Homo sapiens: one gene and its partners. The protein of the gene in region 1 purifies or fractionates together with the protein of each later gene. This does not show direct contact. Each region holds a gene or a part of one and is shown on either strand. Other genes may lie near its edges.

The links. The genes of interacting proteins can lie anywhere in the genome.
Region 2: the proteins of KCNJ10 (region 1) and TMED8 purify together in Homo sapiens (affinity purification with mass spectrometry; 3 studies listed by BioGRID and IntAct, with this or other methods). This does not show direct contact.
Region 3: the proteins of KCNJ10 (region 1) and COPG1 purify together in Homo sapiens (affinity purification with mass spectrometry; 3 studies listed by BioGRID and IntAct, with this or other methods). This does not show direct contact.

What each region holds. Positions count from the first base shown.
Region 1 is NC_000001.11:160,060,146-160,067,171, forward strand, and holds part of KCNJ10 (ATP-sensitive inward rectifier potassium channel 10), read right to left. Parts: intron 1-7,026. UniProt on the Homo sapiens protein: May be responsible for potassium buffering action of glial cells in the brain. Inward rectifier potassium channels are characterized by a greater tendency to allow potassium to flow into the cell rather than out of it.
Region 2 is NC_000014.9:77,367,082-77,374,107, forward strand, and holds part of TMED8 (protein TMED8), read right to left. Parts: intron 6,829-7,026; exon of another isoform or gene 6,610-6,828; intron 1-6,609.
Region 3 is NC_000003.12:129,252,593-129,259,618, reverse strand, and holds part of COPG1 (coatomer subunit gamma-1), read right to left. Parts: intron 6,997-7,026; coding exon 6,925-6,996; intron 6,744-6,924; coding exon 6,664-6,743; intron 4,952-6,663; coding exon 4,876-4,951; intron 4,635-4,875; coding exon 4,542-4,634; intron 3,552-4,541; coding exon 3,465-3,551; intron 2,150-3,464; coding exon 1,992-2,149; intron 1,893-1,991; coding exon 1,759-1,892; intron 1-1,758. UniProt on the Homo sapiens protein: The coatomer is a cytosolic protein complex that binds to dilysine motifs and reversibly associates with Golgi non-clathrin-coated vesicles, which further mediate biosynthetic protein transport from the ER, via the Golgi up to the trans Golgi network.

The DNA of each region.
Region 1 (7,026 bases):
CCTCTCAACTTTTTACTTATTCCTTATCCACATTCCTCCCTTAAGAAGGAGGATGGGGTAGGGATGGCATGAGGACACTTACTAGATACAGAACTAGATTCAGAGGTGAGTGTCTCACTGTCCTCTGTCTCCTATAGTAACTAACTGCCCGAGCACAGCAGGGAAAGCTGAAGTTACATACATTGAGCAGTTCTCTTTCTCCAGTAGGGAACATTTGGAGCAAAAGAATCACACCAGAGTATAAGGGCTGGGGGAGGTGTGTTCCTGCATGAAGGAAGACAGATGGATGAGGCGGCTTAAGGAGAATCCAGTAGCCAGAGGGGAAGCATTTTAGATGAGGGGAAAGGAGAAGGAGTAGAAGGGCCCTGAGGTTCTCCCATGCAATTTTGATGGGAGGAAACATCATGGAGATTAGCACTCAATAATATTTGCTGATGAGCAAACCAATATCAGCTTAGTTCTCTATCTAACAGAGTTTCTGCAACTGTGACCCCATCCACCCTCCCAGGCCCCAGCACACCACTGTGCAGTCAGCCCTCAAGTCTCTGGGATCCCAATGGGCCTTCCTCTCTTCCCTTTTTAGGGCATCTGCTCCCAACTGCTAGAAGATGCTCTGGACCAGAATAGCAGGTGAGCCGTAGATACAGCCTACAGATCCTCGTGCAGACGTAGGATAATAACTGGAAAGGCCAGTACTAGGCAGCATGAAGGACTTATAATTGATAGAGATCCCCAACTCCAAACCCTAGCTAAGAAGGCTGTGGGGTTACTTTCCAGTGATCCAGAGTTCGTAGCAGGAGTGGGGCCGGTAGGAGGGTGGGAAGTGAAAGGAGGTAGGCTCACTCTGCCTAGGGGTAGTGCAAGGGTCAAAGTGACCTTCGGAGGTTCTTTCTAGACCCAGAAGCCCACTTAAGGCTCCTAGACCCGTTCTTCTCCCCACCCCTTCCCCTCACCATGCCCCCACTCCTTCCCAAAAAAAGGTGGCTAAAAGACAGCTCTGTTGGAATTGTAGATAGGGTTGGGGGTGGGGTCATCTGAGTGAAACCAAGAGACAAATAGTTGGGGGAAAAACACAAAAAAACTAGCGGTGAGAGACCTCCATTCTAGTCCCAGACTTGCCACCAGCTGCCTGGACACCATCATCTTACCTCTCAGAGCCTTGCTGGGAAAATGATAACTGTTCCATCTACCTCCCAGGGCCAGGAAGGGCTAGGAAATATCTATGTGCCCTGGGCAAATGCAAAGACGGACACACTGGACCTGTGCCAGCGAGGCCAGGTGGGGCTTTAGTTATTCACATAGAGCTCAGTCCAGGGTACTTGACTCAGCTCTGGGGTGGGGGGCCTGGCCCACCTAACTGCTTCCATGGTTGAGGCAGGAATGGGAGCATTGCTTAGAGTGCAGCAAGAGGCTGTGTCCATGGTTAACGTATAAGCAGGTGCAGTCTGGGGCAGCGGGACATTCTTAGCCCCAGGGCCACATTCTTAAGGTCACAACAAGTGCAAACTTGTTATAACCAGTGTCAGAGCAGCAGAGGGCAGCAAGGGCATGGGGGGGAGGGACATGGTGCTGAGATGCCTGCGGCCGTGGAGGGGGTGCAAAAGGGAAAGGGGGGTGGGGTGGAGGGAGGGTGGGTGTGCAGGTGCATATGCCAGGAGGTGGTGTTGTGGACGTGCGATCTGTGTGCTGGGGTCAGTGTGTTGTGTCTGGGCACATCCGTTTGGGTGTGTGTTGGGAGCCGTGTGTGGGGCCGCATAGATGAGTGTATGCCTGTGTGTCTCTGCATATATGAGCCCCGGGGAGTCCTGTAGTGGGAGGAGGAGAGGTGGCAGCCACAGGTCCAGGCTGGGCATACGGAACCGAGAAGTGGGCAGGCTCTGAGTGCCCCTTCCCCTTCTCAGGCCTCAGAGAACCTGCATTCCAACTCCTCCACAGACTGCCCCTGCCCCTGTGAGCCTAGGGCCTCTCCCCTCTGTGTGCCCTCTGCAGCCTGCCCTGTCAAATGCCCATCTCCCCAGCCTGCCCAGAGAGTGGGGGAGTCACCTCCTGCCCATCCCCCCTGGCCCAGGGCCCACTCCCCCGTGCTCTCTGGGCCCTCCGGACACTGGGGCGAAGGGGGGGTGGTGGGGAAGGCTCTGAAAGCAGGTGACTGTTTGGGGGAACTAGGGGACAGAGCCCCCATTGTGCCTGCCCCGGAGCCGCCTCAATGGAGCTCCCTGGCACAAAGGGGCTTTGACAATGGGCAGGACATTAGTATGCAGAGCCAGCCCCTCAGCCCTCTCCCTGTCCCACAGCCGAGGGGCGGGAGCTGGGGGACTGCTGGTAGAGGGTGAGGGGGGCCCAGGACTGAGACTAAGGAGATCTTGGCCCACAGGGGCTCCCCTGGGGGCACTGCCCAGGAGACAGGGGAGGAGACTAGACTAGGGCCTCCAAACCTGCCACTCGCCAGAAAGGACTTTCCAAATGGAAAAAGCCACGGGGACTGGTAGGAGTGGAGCGGGAGGGGCTGCGGGATGCCAAGCCCCTTGGTCCCAGGCTGGGCTCTAGAAAGAAGTGGGTGGGCAGTCTAAGTCCTCCCACGTTTTGCCTCAGTTTTACCATCTATGCAAAGGAATTTTGTGGGCAGGAGAAGAAAAACAGAGTAATACATAGCAAGTTCCCCAACCCCAGCAGGAAGGGCATGTGCTCAGGGTTTGGGGTCTTTGGGGTTCTACTTCCTTGGGGTGCCACCTTCTTTGAGATCTCCACCTGCTCTGGTTCTGGAGGCTGAAGAAGCTACTACAGGGGAAGCAGGGGTTAGGGACAAGAGTCGCCTGCCACCTGTGCTCTTCCAGGGAATTCAACCTGAACTAGTGAAGGTGGAGCTGGAAGCCCAGCTCAGGGGAATTTGACTGAAGGGCCAATGAGCCAGGACTAGCTCTTCCCAGTATATGTCTAACTCCCCATCTGCCTCCTCCTGTTCTACAATCTGTGAGGAGAAGCTTCCCTTCTCCTGCCCAGGGAACCCCAGCAGGCACCCCTATCCTCATTAATGCCCTCAGCACCACCAACTGGCTTTTCCAAGGCACCATGTTGTGCCTTGTGGTGCCTCAGCACAAAGGGCAGGGCCAGAAGGCATGATCTGGGGAGGGGCTCCTGGGCCTTGGGTGGTGGGAGAGCTGAGAGGAGGGCAGTGAGCGGGACTGAGCACCTCATGAGAAGCAGGGTTGCCCAATCACAGACTTCCTACGAGCCCCAGGAAGAGAAGGCCGGGGACACTTTGCAGAACTGCTCCCCACACGGCAAGACAGAACAATCTCTGGGCTTGAAAATGTCTTCCTAGCTTTCTTTCTCCTCTTTTCAGTTGCTGTCAGTATCGGAAGTTCTCCCTGCTGTCTGCCCTCAAGGCTTCCCACTGTACTGCCCTGGCCCTGGGCTCACCTGAGATTGCTGGGGAAAAGAAAGGTAAAGTCTGCTTCTTTCCCCGTCTTAGGACCTTGCTCCTCCACTCTCCACAAAAAAATTCTGGCGGGGAGAGCAGAGATGGAGCTAGGCCTTAGAACTCCTGGGTTCGGGGCCCAACAACCCTGTCAACTCTCTCTGGGAACTTGCACAGGTCACTTTCCCTCTCTGGGCCGAGCTCCTATGTGTAGCATTGGATGGATCTCCTCTGCAGCTCCCTGCCTTCGGGACAATGCGCAGTGGATTCAGGGGCAAGGCTCCGGAATTTAATGAGAGCTCACATCATTGAGCTCTACGCTGAGCCCTTTCCTATTATGTCATTTAATTCTCAACAACTCTAAAGGTGGGTGCTTTTTAAAGTCCCATTTTATAGATGAGAAAACTGAAGCACAGAGATATTAATAATTTGCCCATGGCCACATAGCTAGTGAGTAGTAGAACAGAGGCAGAACTTAACATGATGAACCACTACCCCATACTACCTCCCTGGTGAGAACATTCAAAAGACCATGGCAGCTGAAGGAAATCAACGAGGATATTCAAATTGGCCCAGGTTTTTGAAACTGTCTTCTAAGGTTCCTCTAGACTAGCAGTTCTCAAAGTATGGTCCCTGGACCCTTTCGGAGGGTTCCTGAGACCCTTTCGGAGGCTCTACAAAGTCAAACCTATCTTCATAATAATGCTAACAATACATTATTTGCCCTTTTCACTTTCATTATTTCACAGTGTTCAGTAGAGTTTTCCAGAAGGTACATGACCTATGATATTGCAACACACTAAATGCAGAAGCAGATGAGAAAGCAACTGTCTTTGATTAAGCCAGATGTTTAAAAAGACTTGTGAAAATATAAGACAATGTCACTCTTCTTATTAACTTTTTGTTTACTTTAATACAGCTGTTTTTCATTAAAAATACGTCATTTTGTTAACATGCAAAAATTAATAATTATTTCATGTGTCCCAGTGTTCATTTCTAACACAGTAAATGTTCATAGATAGAACCCACACAAACCAAAGCTCTTTGGAGTCTTCAGTAACTTTTTAGAATGTAAAGTGGTCCTGAGGTCAAAAAGTTTAAAAACCAGTGCTCTAGACTCTAATACACTCACCCTCTCCTCTTACCAGTTGCCTATATCTTTTTTATCACAGGGTCAACCGGGAGGTTTAGACACGTGGAGAAGGAGTGTGCCTGGCTCTACCAGTTGGAACTGGGATCAGAAGTGGAGCTGAGGAGGCTGGTCCAGGGAGAATGCAGTGCTAAGAGGTCAGACCTATACCCCACTTGGGAGGTGACCTCACATGTCTGCCACCTTGCAAGCCCCTGCTCAGAGGTATGCTCAGGACAATGGGGCTGCCTCAGACTAGACTCTGACCTTTATCCCCCTTTTTCATTCCAGACGATGCTGCTGACAAGCCCGGCCTCAGGCTGGAGTCAGACTGCCCTGGTGAGGGGAGAAAGGCTCTCTGGGGCCTACATACCTGCATTTGTGTTGGGGGGGTGGGTGGAGCAACAATGCTTAGAAGACTATAAATTGGGGGTTCTAGGGCTTGTAATCTTAGGGTGAAGCCATGTCTACAGGATGGGGTCGTTAGTAGGAGAGGGGTTTCTCTTGAGATCTCCTATAGAATTAGATAATAGGATCCTATACACACCCTGCTGCAGGATGCTCACATAAACCTCCAAAGTCAGGCTCCTTCCCCAAGAATAAGCGATCAGAAATGTTTCCTACCTAGAGTCAAACTGGACAGTAGCTACTCTGTGTCTTAGGAGGCAGGCCCTTTGCTGGGTGCCAGAGGGTCCAGAGAGAGAAGAGATGCCTTTGCCAATCTGACGGAGGTACAGGCCTCACCCTAGAGGAAACCCCCGGCTAATGAGGGAGACAAGTCTCCTCCAACATCGCCATGCATGGAGAACCCTGGGCCAAGTTGCAGATGCAAGTAACAAGCAAGATGGCAGAGCAGAGAGGGAAACAGGAGAATAGAGATCTGCGGGAGGGGTGAGACTTGGAATGGCCTTTGTGAGGGTCCAGAGTGTGGGGAGGAGCATGGCTCAGAGACTGCCTGGGATATGCTCCCCAGGATCAGGGTCTGAAGAGTGCAGTTCCACAAGATATGGGGCTGGAGGGGATGGGAGAAAGGCATAAAGTCTCTTGAAGCCTGTGATTGGGAAATTTTTATCCAATGCCAACAGATGTGTCTGGGTAGAGAAAGGGCAAGATAAAACTGATGCTTCATGATGACAATTCCAGTGATAATTTCATTATAGGGTAACAGGGAAGGAGTCGAGGAGAGAGGGGGCTGGAGTCAGGGAGGTCATTAAGGAGGCTGCTGTGGGCATCCAGGCTGATGGGATGAACAAGCCAATCAGGAGACACAAGAAGAGAAGGGCATATAAACCTGAGAGAAGTTGTGGGGGCAAACCTGGGCCGGGAGAGGGAGAGGCAGGATGAAGAATACAAGAGCGATAGGCAGGACCATGGGAGCAGGAATGAGATGTGGGGGTTGTCTTGACCGACAGAAGAAGTCTCTGACAGAAGTCTTTGGCTGAAAGAGAAGTTGCTGAGAATGGGGAAAGAGACTATTTGGTGAAAGCTCAACCACTCAGTTCTCATTTATTGAATCTGAAGACAGGACATCTGCTTGGCAAAAACTTGTGGAAAGCAGGGGCTGTGGGTGTGGAGACCCCACCTCAAGTGATGCCCAGCCTATTGGAATCAAGGAAGGAAATGCATCTTAAACTGCTTGATAATTCTTCTACCTTCCCAAACTCCAGAAGGGTGGGAAGAAAAAACCTAGGACAGAATCTCAAAACAAAACAAAGCAAAACCCACAAAGAAGGGCTGGGACAAAGCCCAGGAACAAGGAAAGATGACACAGTAGAAAACATTAGAGTGGTGGGAGAAAAGCAATGGCCCACAACTCCACTTTTTACAGACTAAGGACCATTCCAAGCCCCTTACGGTAGTCACTGTGCATCCTCACAGCAGTTATGAGCCCTATTGTGAGGATGGGACTTCCTTAGCTACTAAGTGGTAAACCAGGACCGAATCCCACAAAGTCAGACTCCAAGGCCATGCTCTTAACCATAGTGCCTGCTGTCTCTCAGAGCGGAAAGTAGCCCTGGAACAGCAAGAGAGAGGTGCAGCAGCCACCCAGGGGAGGCCCCTGACAGTTGTCACAATAATCCCTGCACTCTGAGCTCCATCACTCCTCTCGGAAGCTTTAAGGATGGGCTTCTGTGTTTGGGGATTTTGTTGGTGGTTTTTGTTTTGTTTTGGTTGGTTTTTTTGGTCCAGAAAGTGGTCTCTCTTTCCTTCCCAGTCTCCATTTCAAATGTCTTTCCTTTTCTAGGATGTGCTTCCTGAGATCTAACCTAAGTCCTTCTAGCTGCAGCCACAATCCTTTCCCCAGGTGTTGTGCCATCGGAAAAGTTGCACAATGGCCATGTATACCCTTTCTGTGCTGCACCTTGTTGGAGGCTTGAGGTCTGATTCAGTCCTCTTCTAGCTCCTGCTTCTCCAACCTCCTTCTCCATGCCACAAAGTTCTGTTCTTACTTCTCTCTCACATTCCAGAGCCAGCCCCT
Region 2 (7,026 bases), on another chromosome or scaffold:
TAAAAATACAAAATTAGCCAGGCATGGTGGTGTGTGTCTAATCCCAGCTACTTGGGAGGCTGGGGCAGGAGAATCGCTTGAACCTGGGAGGCAGAGGTTGCAGTGAGCCGAGATCACACCACTGCACTCCAGCCTGGGTGACAGAGCAAGACTCTGTCTAAAAAAAAAAAAAAAAAAAAAAAAAAACTTTTTAAATCTTTTCTATTGTGAAATATAACGCAAATGTAGAAGAGTACACAAAAGTGTATACCTCAATAAATTATCACAAACACCACCCAGGCCAAGAAATAGAACACTTCTAACACTCCAGAAGCACCACTCATGACCTTCCCAATCATTACCTGATCCTTTCCTCCTTAAGGTAAGAAAACCACTATCCCAACTATGGACATTATTTCCTTGCTTTCTTTATAGCTGGGCCACCTAAGTAAGCATTCCTAAACACTGTTGCTTCACTGGGCCTGTTTTCTGAATTCCATATAAAGGAAAATGAAAAAGAATGTTTTCTTTTGGGTCTTGCTTATTTCAGTCATTATTTTGATTGATGCATCCATCAAAATCTGCATCAAAAAATGCACCCATGTAATTGTAGGTAGGTTTGTTAACTTTCTTTCTTTTTTTTTTTTTCTGAGACAGAATCTCACTCTTGTTGCCCAGGCTGGAGTGCAATGGTGCAATCTCGGCTCACTGCAACCTCCACCTCCTCGCTTCAAGCGATTCTCCTGCCTCAGCCTCCTGAGCAGCTGGGACTACAGGCGCCCACCACCACGCCCAACTAATTTTTGTATTTTTAGTAGAGACGGGGTTTCACCATGTTGGCCAGGTTGGTCTCAAAATCCTGAGCTCAGGTGATCCGCCTTCCTCAGCCTCCCAGAGTACTGGGATTACAGGCATGGGCCACCGCACCCAGCCAGTTTGTTCACTGTCATTGCTGTACGTTATTCCATGAATCCACCATGAGCTATCTATCTATTGTTGATGATACTTAGGTTAACTCCAGTTTGGGGCTATTATGAATAATGCTGCTATGAATATTCTTGTGTCTTGGCTACAGTGCATACATTTATGTTGGATATAAATGTCAGAATGGAAACGGTTAAGTCATAGAAATTTGAATGTTAAATTTCAGTAGATAATGCCGAACTATTTTCTAAAGGGGTTGTACCAAATATAATGCTACCAGCATTGTAGCATCATTTCATTACTCTGGACCTTCTCTGACACTTGGTCATGTTAAAATTTTTTTGGGGGGCCATTCTGGTAGATGTATGCTAATTTAGTTTGTATTTCACCAATGACTCGTATTTCTTGGCCATTTAAAAATCTTCTTTTGTGAAGTGCCTCTCCAAGTCTCTTGCCAATTTTATTACTGGATTGTCCTTTTTATTATTTATTTATTTATTTATTTATTTTTGAGACGGAGTCTCACTCTGTCACCCAAGTTGGAGTGCAGTGGCATGGTCTCGGCTCACTGCAACCTCCGCCTCCTGGGTTCAAGAGATTCTTCGGCCTCAGCCTCCCTAGTAGCTGGGACTACAGGCACGTGCCACCACACCCAGCTAATTTTTGTATTTTAGTAGAGACAGGGTTTCACCATATTGGCCAGGCTGTTCTCGAACTCCTGACCTCATGATCCGCCCACCTTGGCCTCCCAAAGTGCTGGGATTACAGGCATGAGCCACCAAGCCCAGTCCCTTTTTATTATTTATAGGAGTTTTAGATACAAACCTTTTGTCAGGTATATGTATTATAATTACCTGCTTCCACTCTGTGACATGACTTTTCCCATTTAATGGTGGCCTTTGATGAACCAAAGTACTTTTGTGTACTCAAAATTTATCAAATTTGCCTTCCTTAGTCTTTGTATGTCCTGTCTAAGATGTCTTTCACTATATTGAGATCCGAAAATATTCTCCCATATCCTATAGGTAGGTGCTTATGTACTACCTTTCACATACTGTTCTATAATCTACCGAGTTGATTTTTTGTGTATGATGTGTGAGGTAAAGATTACGTTTCTTTACTTTCCTTTCTCTTAGAATATTCAATTGTCCCAGAAACATTTACCTTACCTTACCCACTGCTCTATGTTAACAATCTTTGTTGCAAAGCAAGTGTCCGTATAAACATGTTTCTAAGCTTTTGATTCTATTCCTAGAGCCTGACTACTCTTTAAAAACTTTAAAATAAGTCTTGATGTTGGATGGAACAAATCTTTCCCTGTTGTCTTATTCAAGAGTGTCTTTGCTATTTGTGGCCTTCTATTTCTATATGTATTTTAGAACCAGCTTGTCAAAGCCACCCAAAAATCCCAATTCATGAACTTAGCTGTTTCTGAAGCTGAGTTGCACTCCCTGCAATGACCTACTTTTAGGGCATGGCCTTTCATGGCCCTAACCCAAAGGAAATGGAGTTCACCAGGCTCCCCCTTGACGGGTCCTGAACACTAATCCATTTCCTGTTACTTTAGTTCAAAGAGGCACTTTTCATGACCTTGTCACTCAGCTTCCCCACTCAGGAATCCAGCATGTACCCTCAGGAGACAAAAGAGCCCCAAAATAGACTCTTGTCCTTGGATCTCTATAGCTCTCACATGGATCACAGCTAGGTAATTCTTCATGATCTTTCTATCTCTCCAGTATCTTCCAGCAGATGTTTATATTTCACCCATATTTTCTAATTGTCCCTGATGAGAGATAATTACCTAGTCTGCTATTACTGAAAACAGAAATCCATATTGCCTATTTACCCATATCAATCTGAATATACCTTAGTGAATAAAATAGAAACAAAAATAGTTCTGCCCTCTGCCAGGCACGGTGGCTCATGCCTGTAAGGGAGGCGGAGGCGGGAGGGCCGAGGCGGGCAGATCACAAGGTCAGGAGTTCGAGACCAACCTGGCCAGCATGGTGAAACCCCATCTCTACTAAAAATACAAAAATTAGCCGGGCGTGGTGGCACATGCCTGTAATCCCAGCTACTCGGGAGGCTGAGGCAGGAGAATCGCTTGAACCCAGAAGGCGGAGGTTGCAGTGAGCCGAGATCACACCACTGCACTCCAGTCAAGGCGACAGAGCGAGACTCCGTTTCAAAAAAAAAAAAAAAAAAAAAATTCTGCCCTCTCTCTGTCATTGATTAATAATATCAGTTTATCTACTATGTCTATCCCCCTTTGGCTTATCCTGTCCTTTGGATCGTAATGAAGACTTCAAAAAGGTTAAATTTTTAGACAGAAATGAAACTAGCACAAAAATAATGAAAGACAGTAGTGGATTTAAAGAATAACAAAATTAATCTCTAAGGAGACTTATAACCTTTTATAAAAAAATTCACTGAGAGAAAAAGGTCTAGAAAATGTCAGTTCCTGATGAGCAGAAACAGAATACAGACCTATAGAAAGGCTCTTATTTAGGATATAGACATAGTGAAGTCTCATGCCAAGTTTGTGTGTGTGTCTATCTATGTACACATATATTTATATATTTTAAAGACTATTTTTATTAACTATTTCTGAATAATTTATCCACATTATTCAAAATTCAAAAAGCATATAAGTATACAGTGAAAAATTTCCTCCCATGTCAGTCCCTACCTCCAAAAGCAATCAATGTTATTTGGTTTTGTGTAGTCTTCCAAAGATGTTTTATGCATATAAAAAAAAGTGTGTGTGTGTGTGTGTGTGTGTATACTTTTTCACTTTTTTACACAAAAAATGGGCATGCTTAGGCGTGGTGGTGCGTGCCTGTAATCCCAGCTACTTGAGAGGCTGATGCAGGAGAATCGCTTGAACCCGGGAGGCGGAGGTTGCAGTGAGCTAAGATCACGCCATTGCACTCCAGCCTGGGCAACAGTGCGAGACTCTGTCTCAGAAAAAAAAAAAGGTCGGGGGGAGCATGCTGGACATACTACTGTGTACTTTGTTCTTTCCACTTATATCTCAAAGACCTTTCCATAACTGCACATGAAAAGCTTCTTCATTCTTTTCTACAGCTGATTAGTATTTCATTGGGTGAATATTCCATAATGTATTACCATTACAAACAATGCCATAATAACCTTGTATCTATGTCATTAAACAGGAGAATAAATAAATCTATAATTCCTGGAAAGAATGAGTCAAAGGGGCATATATTGTAATTCTGATGGATATTGACAAGTTGCCCTCCACAGAATCTGTACCAATTTACAATCTCATTAGCAAAGCATGAGAGTGTCTGCTTCTGCACACCGACCAACAAAGTGAGTTAGCAAACTACCAAGTGTAGTTAGGATTTCCAATTCCCTTATTATGATTTAGGTTGAGCATTTTTCACATGGTAAGCACCACTTCTCATAGCATTTTAACAACTTAATGTATACTGGAAAAAAATATGCTTTTGATTTTTTTTCTTTCCATCCCATAAGGAGTTGAGCTTTTGATTTTTAACTTTAAAGGAATGCCCTAAATTATTTTTAATTTTAAAGAATGCCCTAAATTACATAAGAACTACTGGTAAAACAACTTATAATTGGATTCAGAGAGGCAGGAAGTAAGAAAAGGAGAAAGAAAAACATAACTTTATTTCCAGAAGTATAAAGTGTGGGAGATGCAGCGCTGTTTCAGTGAGAGAGAATTATGAGCACAGCCTTTTAGGTTTCCTGAAGTTCTTCAGTGAAATTTAAGCCACTATGCAGAAGAAAAAGCCAATTTTCCTATAGTATAGCTTTTATTATATTAGCCAAATATAAGCCAATTCTGAAAGTATTCCTAGAAGAGATCAGAGAAATCAGGCCAGACTTTGCAAATTTAGATGGTATGTGGGGAAATGTTTTTTATTTTTAAAAATATGTATTCTAGTATATATTAAGAAAAATGGATATATCAAACTAGTAATATCGTAGGTATTATTTAGAATGAAACTTTTAAGTGTCAATCAAAATGTCAATTAAATGTCAATGTCAAGAAAAAATAGTAAATAACTAATACTGTAACGGTATTCTCCAGTGTGGCAAAGTCATTACCATGGTTCCTCAGTGGCCGAAATCTCGGAAACAATGAACGGAGGAGGAAAAATGGAAGCTTAACAATAACTTAATTTATCATTGATGGCCACTAAAGCAAAGGTGAGAGAGAAAAAAGGAACTTCCTTAAAATAACTTATTTTATATTTGACAACTTTTTAAATGTGCATTTTCTTTCTACATTACCAAAGGGTCTGGTTTCAGACATTCTGATCATGCTAGGGATTCAAACTTACTGTGTACTTCGTACTTTCCCTACAAGGAGAACCAAAAAGCAGGTTTTTTTCAAAAGCATTTGAATATCAGGTCAGGGTTCTTTAGAACAGGCCTCAGAGGATTTCCCCCTCAGTAAACAGGCTGCAAAGAGATAATTAGCCTGTCATTTTAGATTCCAGTGCAGAAGAACTAAAAGCAGGCTATGTGGTTACAGACTCAAGAGGCTTAAACGAAAACAAATTAAGTGAGTTTATGTTCCAACCAAATCTAGTGACCATGTGATCCAATTTCTCTTCAGCCCTTGAGTGGGACATGCTCCTGAGAGGTCACTCAGATTGTGCACCTTTGGTTATACTGTTTAGACTGAATCACGACATGAATAATCAACTATCTGACTAATCGACTATCTGGACACTAAAAACACAACCACTGTAAGAAAAAGAAAGCCACAGGCAGACAAAATGTTAACATTTTGACATAAAACCACAATAGAAAACTAAAAAACATCAAGGCTGTTTGTCATTGACTCCCTATTATTCTTACCATTCAACATGGTAGCCACCAAATTTTGAATTTTAATTCATGCACATTGAAATAGCCACAGATATTATATATATATATATATATATATATATATATATATATATATATATATTTTTTTTTTTTTTTTTTTTTTTTTTTTTTTGAGACAGCGTCTCCCTCTGTCGCCCAGGCTGGAGTGCAGTGGTGCAATCTCGGCTCACTGCAACCTCTGCCTCCTGGGTTCAAGTGATTCTCCTGCCTCAGCCTCCTGAGTAGCTGGGACAGATATGAAATATTTTCATCACTGCAAAAAGACTTATTGTAATATTCTAACTTCTACCTTAGAACCATGAACAAGTTTACCTGACCTGTTTCCATCCTCAACATCTAAATGTATTGATAGCTCTGGGGGACATACACACCAAACTAAGTTCTACTGCTGACTTCAGGATCACAATAGAGTTTTATTTTCCTTTAAACTTAAAAAAAAAACAAAAACAAAAACAAAAAAACCTGCCTTTAAGTGATGCAACAAGTATGCCTCAGATAGTTTCATAATTAAAGAATGATTTATCTCTCCTCTGGGGAACTGAAGAACCCAGGTGCCTCAAATAAAAGACTATTAAAAACAATTACAATGCATAAAACAATAAGAACACCATGACCACTGGAGAGCTTAGTTCATAAGAACATAAATCCTTTCCTTCCTTTTCACCAAAACCTCAGCTAACAAACATGAAGACACTCAATAGGTATTCTCTGCAGAGAACACTTTTAAAAAACAAGTTATGGTTATTCTGGATAATGACACATTCCTGCTTTGAAGGAATAAGATACACCAAAAAACCAAAACCCTTAACTCAACAATACCTGATATGGCTTGGATGTTTGTTCCCTCCAAATCTCACGCTGAAATGTGATTTCCAATGTTAGAGGTGAGGTCTGGTGGGAGGTGACTGGATCGTGGAGATGAATCCCTCATGAATGATTTGGCATCATCCTCTTGATGATAAGTGAGTTCTCACTCAGTTAGTTCACCTGAGATATGGTTGTTTAAAAGAGTCTGGGACCTCCTCCCGTCTCTCTCTCTCTCACTCCCAACTCTCGCCATGTGACATACCTGCTCCCCCTTTCAGTATGATTCTAAGCTTCTTGAGGCCCTCACCAGAAACAGATACCAACACCACACTTCCTGTACACCCTGCAATACCATGAGCCAATTAAAACTCTTTTCTTATAAATTACTCAGTCTCAGGTATTCCAAATGGACTAACAGAACACCTGAAT
Region 3 (7,026 bases), on another chromosome or scaffold:
AAAAAAATTTTTCTTAATGCTTATTTTGAAGACCCTACTTTATTTACATCTTTCATTATTCTGGAAATATGGGGGATATAATAAGAATGAATGAATACCCAAATCAGTGACTGAATTCATTAGTTCTTTTTCCATTTCTTTTTTTTTTTTTTTTTTTTGAGATAGAGTCTCCCTCTGTCGCCCAGGCTGGAGGGCAGTGGCGCGATCTCGGCTCACTGCAACCTCCACCTCCCAGGTTCAAGTGATTCTCCTGCCTCAGCCTCATGAGTAGCTGCGATTACAGATGCGCACCACCACGCCCGGCTAATTTTTGTATTTTTAGTAGAGATGGGGTTTCACCATGTTGGTCAGGCTGGCCTCGGACTCCTGACCTGGTGATCCCCCTGCCTCGGCCTCCCAAAGCGCTGGGATTACAGGCGTGAGCCACCGTGCCCAGCAGTTCATTCTTTCTTCATTTCTAAGGAGGAAAGGAGACTTCTCTCTCCAAACATGAACTCCATCTGTTTGCCTGACCAAGTTTACACTGTTATAGTAGAGAATAATAGAAAAACAAGAGGCCCAATCATTTCTCAAAACCTGCAAATCTAACTCTCCTGCCACAACATCTTTGCTTTCCATGGGCCTGTTCTAAAACACTCCCCTCTTCTCTTCCACTTTGAATCCAGGTTTCTCACCCTAAGCACCTCTCCTTTTCTAGCCTCTCAACATATCCACTTTCCAGTACCAACCACTTTGCACCTCTTCATAGGCTTTCTCCTCCCTGACAGGGTATTCCCACACCCAGAGCAGGGCCCTGCACAGAGGAGACACCAAAGACTCCAGGACTCAAGGCTGCTGGATTCCCCTTAATAACAGCAAACAACGGCTGGGCGCAGTGGCTCACGCCTGTAATCCCAGCACTTTGGGAGGCCGAGGCGGGCGGATCATGAGGTCAGGAGTTCGAGAACAGCCTGGCCAATATGGTGAAACCCCATCTCAACTAAAAATACAAAAATTAGCCAGGCGTGGTGGTGGGCGCCTGTAGTCCCAGCTACTCGGGAGGCTCAGGCAGGAGAATCGCTTGAACCTGGGAGGCAGAGGTTGCAGTGAGCTGAGATCGCACCACTGCACTCCAGCCTGGGCGACATAGTGAGACTCCGTCTCAAAAAGCAAAAACAAAAAACAGCAAACGGCAAACAACAAACATGTTGCCTTCTAAGCAATTTGTCTAGATCACACATTTTCTGGCTATATAACCCTATGTAATAGGCATGATCTATCATCCACATCTGAGAAAAGAAAAGGAAGGCATGGAGAGGATGGGCGGCCTTGCCAGGCTTGCCCAGTTGGTAAGGGGCAGAGCCAGGGCTCTAACCCAGGCTGCCCTGCTCCAGTGCTGGAGCTGGAGGCTCAGAACGACCCTCTATACTGTTCTCTCCTTCACCTGGAAAAGTGCAGCCCCACTTCACATGCACCAGTTTCACAGATCCTGGGTTCCTCCACCAGGCCTCCTCCTGTGGCCAGCCAACCTGACAGGCTCCAGAGTGGACCCGAGCCTTACCTCAGCCTCTTCAGCAGTCAGATGGAACTAACAGCAGCCCACCACCAAAACGTGATACAAGTGGGGACTCAGCATAGTGTCTGGGGCAGGTGCTTCCTAGGTACAGACTCCTTAACACTTGTTAAGAGCATTTTCTTTCTTTCTCCTAGCCCGGGAACCCAGGCCTAGTTCCCAGCAAGCATAAACATGTGAGGCTGGGTGAAGGAATGCCCAGTGACCTGACACAGCCGGGGCCAGCTCTTTGGCACTGCAGCCTGGCAGATTGACGATGGCCGAGGCGGCTTCATACACCACCATCTCGTGCTTGTTGCGCAAGCAGCTCTCGATGAAGTCAAACAGTGGGCTGTCACGGCTACAAAAGAACATAGGGTGGCAAGAAAACGTTGGGGGTGGCCCAGCATGGTAGGATGAGTGAGGCATCATCTAGCTGGTGAGAGATGAGAGCCGTTACCTGCCATCCTCCTCTTCCAGCTGCTTGCTGGCCACCCGGATCATCATGCAGTAGGCAAAGGGAGACTTAAGGCCATGCCGTGTGACCTTGCTGATCATCTTATTGACGGCTAGGCGGTCATTCTTACGCACATGGTACAGGAGCCCTAGTGCGTGGTACTATAGGACAGGAGACAGCAACAGAGTACAAATGTATGACTTTTGGGTATACTGGCTGTGTGGCCCTGGGTGGGTCCTTCAGCCTTCTCATTTCTAAGATGGGCACAGTAGCAGCTACCACACAGAGTGGCTGTGACAACTGCCCCAGGTACTCTGTGTACACAGCCCTCCACACAATGCTTCACAAACCACAGAAGTATATCTGTGGTTCTTGTTCCCACCCCTGCTTCGGCAAGAGCCCTAACAGGTAGCATAAATACAGATATGGAAAGGGACAACAAACAGCACAAAGATGAAAGCAATGTGGGAGACCTGGTGCTTTCAATCAGACAATGAGAGAGAGAAGGTGGGAGCCAGACCCTGAGCATTGTCATGTTTTGTAAGTCACTGTGTGGGACACCTTAGCCATGAAATCTTGCATTACCCACAACAACCCTGAAGGTAGACAGTTTAATCTTTGCTGACTTGCCCAAAGACTCCTGGCTGGTACTGACAAAGCTAGGCCTGGAGGGCCAGAAGCCCAGAGACTCCCTTTCTAAAGATGTGAGGTCTCATAGTTATTTCCTGTCCTCGATACTCTCTTTTGTTTCCTAAAGGAGCGACATTTGGGGGCAAAGATATGGCAGCTGTGGAAGCCTTCTATGTGGGAAGCTTATCTGGCCCTCATAAGTGTTTTGAGGGGCCACAGCTGGCCCTGAAGACAAGAATCGTGCAAAGGATGAGAAGACAGATGAGAGATAAAGGGAATACATAAACACACAGGGAGCGCCGATAGGCACTCATGACCCAGATGGGTCACATGTTACATGCATGATCTCAGCTCGTCCTTGCTGCTTTGTGAGGCAGTAACCTTCATTCGTATTTTACAGACAAGGAAACCAAGAGCCAGAGAGATAAAAGGAACGGCTGTCCTAGGTCACTGAGGAAGAGTAAAGTGGATGAAAGCCTCATCAAGATAATTCCACACATCATAACAAAGCCAGGCTGGCAAAGGCCTAAATTTAGGCGGCCCTCTGCCTGCCTTGGCCAAGTTTGCCACATCATATGCTCCAAAACAATACTCAGCTGGTTATCAAAATACTTGAATATTTCAGCACCAGCTGGTAAGCAGTCTGTAACCCAAGCGCCCCAAGTGGTACCCTGGATTCTCTAACCCAGGACCTCCTAATTCCTCCCATGATCCAATGACGAAAGGATTAAAGCCTGCTATGGCCAGGGGTCACAAGGATCTCGGTGGCAAGTGTCCATGCCAACTGGCCAGTGCCTTACCACCTGCCTGAGTGTTTTAAATATCACTCCCTTGCTCACATCTCACCTGGACCATGATGTTATCACTGGATGCTGCCTCCTGAGCCTCATTCACCCAGCGCTTGACCACGTCAAAGCTGCACTTCAGCAGGTGCTGTGGGCAACAGGACACATTAAGGGGCAGGTAGGAAGTGTCCCCATCACACATTCTGGGCCCAGTTCTGGTCTTCCCTCAGACACAGCTCAGGGGCTCGCCACTGTCCTGGTCCTCAGAGACCATGGACAAACTCAGGATGCTCCCACCCTCAATGTCCCTCCCCAAGGCATGGGTCAACACCATCCACCCACGACTCTCTTCAATCACCCCAGAGTTTCTTGGCTGTCTTCACTGAGAAGGGTGGGACTCTCAGGCTTACAGATACAGAAATACTTTATTTTGGCCAGGTGCGGTGGCTCACGCTTTGTAATCCCAGCACTTTGGGAGGCCGAGGCGGGTGGATCACTTGAAGTCAGGAGCTCAAGACCAGCCTGACCAACATGGTGAAACTACGTCTCTACCAAAAATACAAAAATCAGTTGGGCGTGGTGGTGCACACCTGCAATCTCAGCTACTCAGGTGGCTGAGGCATGTGAATCGCTTGAGCCAGGGAGGCAGAGGTTGCAGTGAGCTGAAATCGAGCCATTGCACTCCAGCCTGGGCAACAGAGTGAGACTCTGTCTCAAAAAAAAAAAAAGAAGAAAGAGAGGCCAGGCACAGTGGCTCACGCCTGCAATCCCAGCACTTTGGGAGGCCGAGGCGGGTAGATCATGAGGTCTGTAGTTCAAGACCAGCCTGGCCAAGATGATGAAACCCTGTCTCTACTAAAAACACAAAAATTAGCTGGGCACAGTGGCAGACGCCTGTAATCCCAGCTACTCAAGAGGCTGAGGCAAGAAAATCACTTGAACCCCGGCGGCAGAGGTTGCAGTGAGCCGAGATCGTGGCGCTGCACTCTAGCCTGGGTGACAGAGTGAGACTCCGTCTCAATCAAAAAAAAAAAAAGAAAGAAAGAAACACTTTCTTTTTTCCTACTGGAATGTGACTCTTAAATTTTCTTCAATTTTCTACCCCACCCCCAGCAGGGCTCCAGCAGCAACTACACACCAAGGAAGACACGAGGGCAGAGCTGGAGACACTGGGCACCTTGTCCACAATGGCTTGTTTCATGTAGCGCTCAATAGCCTGCAGCATGGTGCTCTGTGGGCAAAAGGAGCAGGGTGGAAGGAGATCCAGTCAGTCCTTGGCAGCTCTCAGGAGTGCAGGAATGGGGGCAGAGATGAGTATGAGGAGGAAGTAAGCGTTTCTCATGTGCTCCTGCACACTGCCTCCACCCCACATCACCTGGCTCAGTGATAGGGGACACCCCAAAGAATGCAAAAGATGATGCCGAGGCCTCAATCAAGAGGCCAGGAAGCAGGGAGGAACCGGCACGACTCACATCAGTGATCTGGCAGAGGGCTCGCACGGCCGGGCCCCGGTAGTTGTCTTCTTTCCCAGTCATGTCTTTTGTTAGGCTGCAGGGAAGAAGGCATTGTCAGCATGCAGAGAGCCTGGGCCTGTTTACTCCTCTCCAGCTCCCAACACCACCCTTGCCCAGATTACTACACGAGCCTCCTAACCAGTGCTCTCCCTCTATTCCTGCCCCTCCAAGCCTAACTCCACACAGCTGCTGGAGGGAGTTTCATAAGACTCAAAACCAAACAGGTCATCCCCCTGCTTTTGCTAAAAAGTTTCCATAGCTTCCTACTGCCAGTGACCTGAATGTAACTCCTTGAACTTCCCTAACTGGCTATGCTCACTCCTCTCCAGCCTTTGCATGTGCTGTTTCCTCAGCCTGTAGCATTCCTCACCCCTCACCTCCACTCTGTCCTACTCTTTTTTTTTTTGAGACAGAGTCTCGCTTTGTCGCCCAGGCTGGAGCGCAATGGGGTGCGATCTTGGCTCATTGCAACCTCTACATCCCGAGCTCAAGCTCTACTGCCTCAGCCTCCCCAGCAGCTGGGACTACAGGCACATGCCACCATACCCGGCTAATTTTTGTATTTTTAGTAGAGAGGGGGTTTCACTATGTTGGCCAGGCTGGTCTTGAACTCCCGACCTTGTGATCCACCCGCCTCGGCCTCCCAAACTGCTGGGATTACAGGCATGAGCCATCACTCCTGGCTTTTTTTTTTTTTTTTTGAGACGCAGTCTCGTTCTGTCACCCAGGCTGGAGTGTAAGTGGCATGATCTCAGCTCACTGCAACCTCCACCTCCCCAGTTCAAGCAATTCTCCTGCCTCAGCCTCCCCAGTAGCTGGGATTATAGGTGTGCGCCACCACACCTGGCTAATTTTTGTATTTTTAGTAGAAACGGGGTTTCACCATGTTGGCCAGGATGGTCTCAAACTCCTGACCTCAAGTGATCCACCCATCGCAGTCTGTGGATTACATTGTGGATACAGTGCTGGGATTACAGGCATGAGCCACTGCGCCTGTCCTGTCCTACTATTTCTTACTCATCCTTCAGGACTCCACTTAGATCATTCCTCTGGGAGGACTTTCGTAATTCTAATCAAGCTGGATGCTCTTCTGGTCTGCTCTCATAGCCCATAATACTTCCGTGATAAACTATATTACACCCTACCTTAATGGCCTGATGCCTGGTTATTTCTCTGTAAATTCTGGGGCTACAGAGGCCATGTCTATCTTTTTTGTTGCTATATCCCCAGAGCTACACACAGGGACTGACAGACAATATTTTCTAACTGAACCTACAAATCAATGTATGACCCCCACAACCTTAAACTGTGGCAGGAAGAAATAAGAGAACTGAGCCCCAGTTCTTAAGGGCAGTGATTACACTTTAGTCACATCTGTCCCTGAATTGCTTAGCTTAAAGCAGACACCAGTCACTTAGTAAGCAGTATACCGCTTGTACTCTCTTGTTTATTTTTCTTGTGTTCTCTCTTTATACTCAAGAAAGTCTTTGGGAAAGTTCTAAGCTGGTTTGGTTGACTAAGAGAAATCAAGAAAAGGAAGCATTTGTGTCCAAGTCAAGGTCAGAGAATTAAAATAGAAACAGCACACCTGGAGGCTGCCATGGGGTGGGCAGTGGTAACAGGGAAGCTGCCACGGGGTGGGCAGCTGGCAATATGCAACCAAGTCTCACTGTCTGGTACACACAAGAAAAAAATGGTCTGTCAATGGAACCCATCAGAAGAGCCACCCACAACCCCATGACTTGCCTGCTGGTGACAATGATGACATCCTCTGCAATGCAAGACATCTCCTTGATGGTCAAGTAGCACATCCGACGGAGTGTGGGCTGGGAGATAGGTGGGAAAAGCCCTATCAGCCCGGGCTCACCAAGGGCCAGAGTTGGGAGAAGATACCTCCTGTCTCCACAAAGGCAGCCCACACTGACTGGTGGGGCCAGCTCTCTTTGGCCCTCCCACCACCTTGTTACAGCTGCCACCTCTCAAGGAAAGCTGGGTTGAGGCACTTACATCATTGGACTGAAAGAGCTTGGTCATGGCAAAGAAGGCCTCGGTCGCTTCCGTGGTCCCCAGGTGCTCCCCCTGTGTTAATCAAGAAAGAAGTCTCAGCTT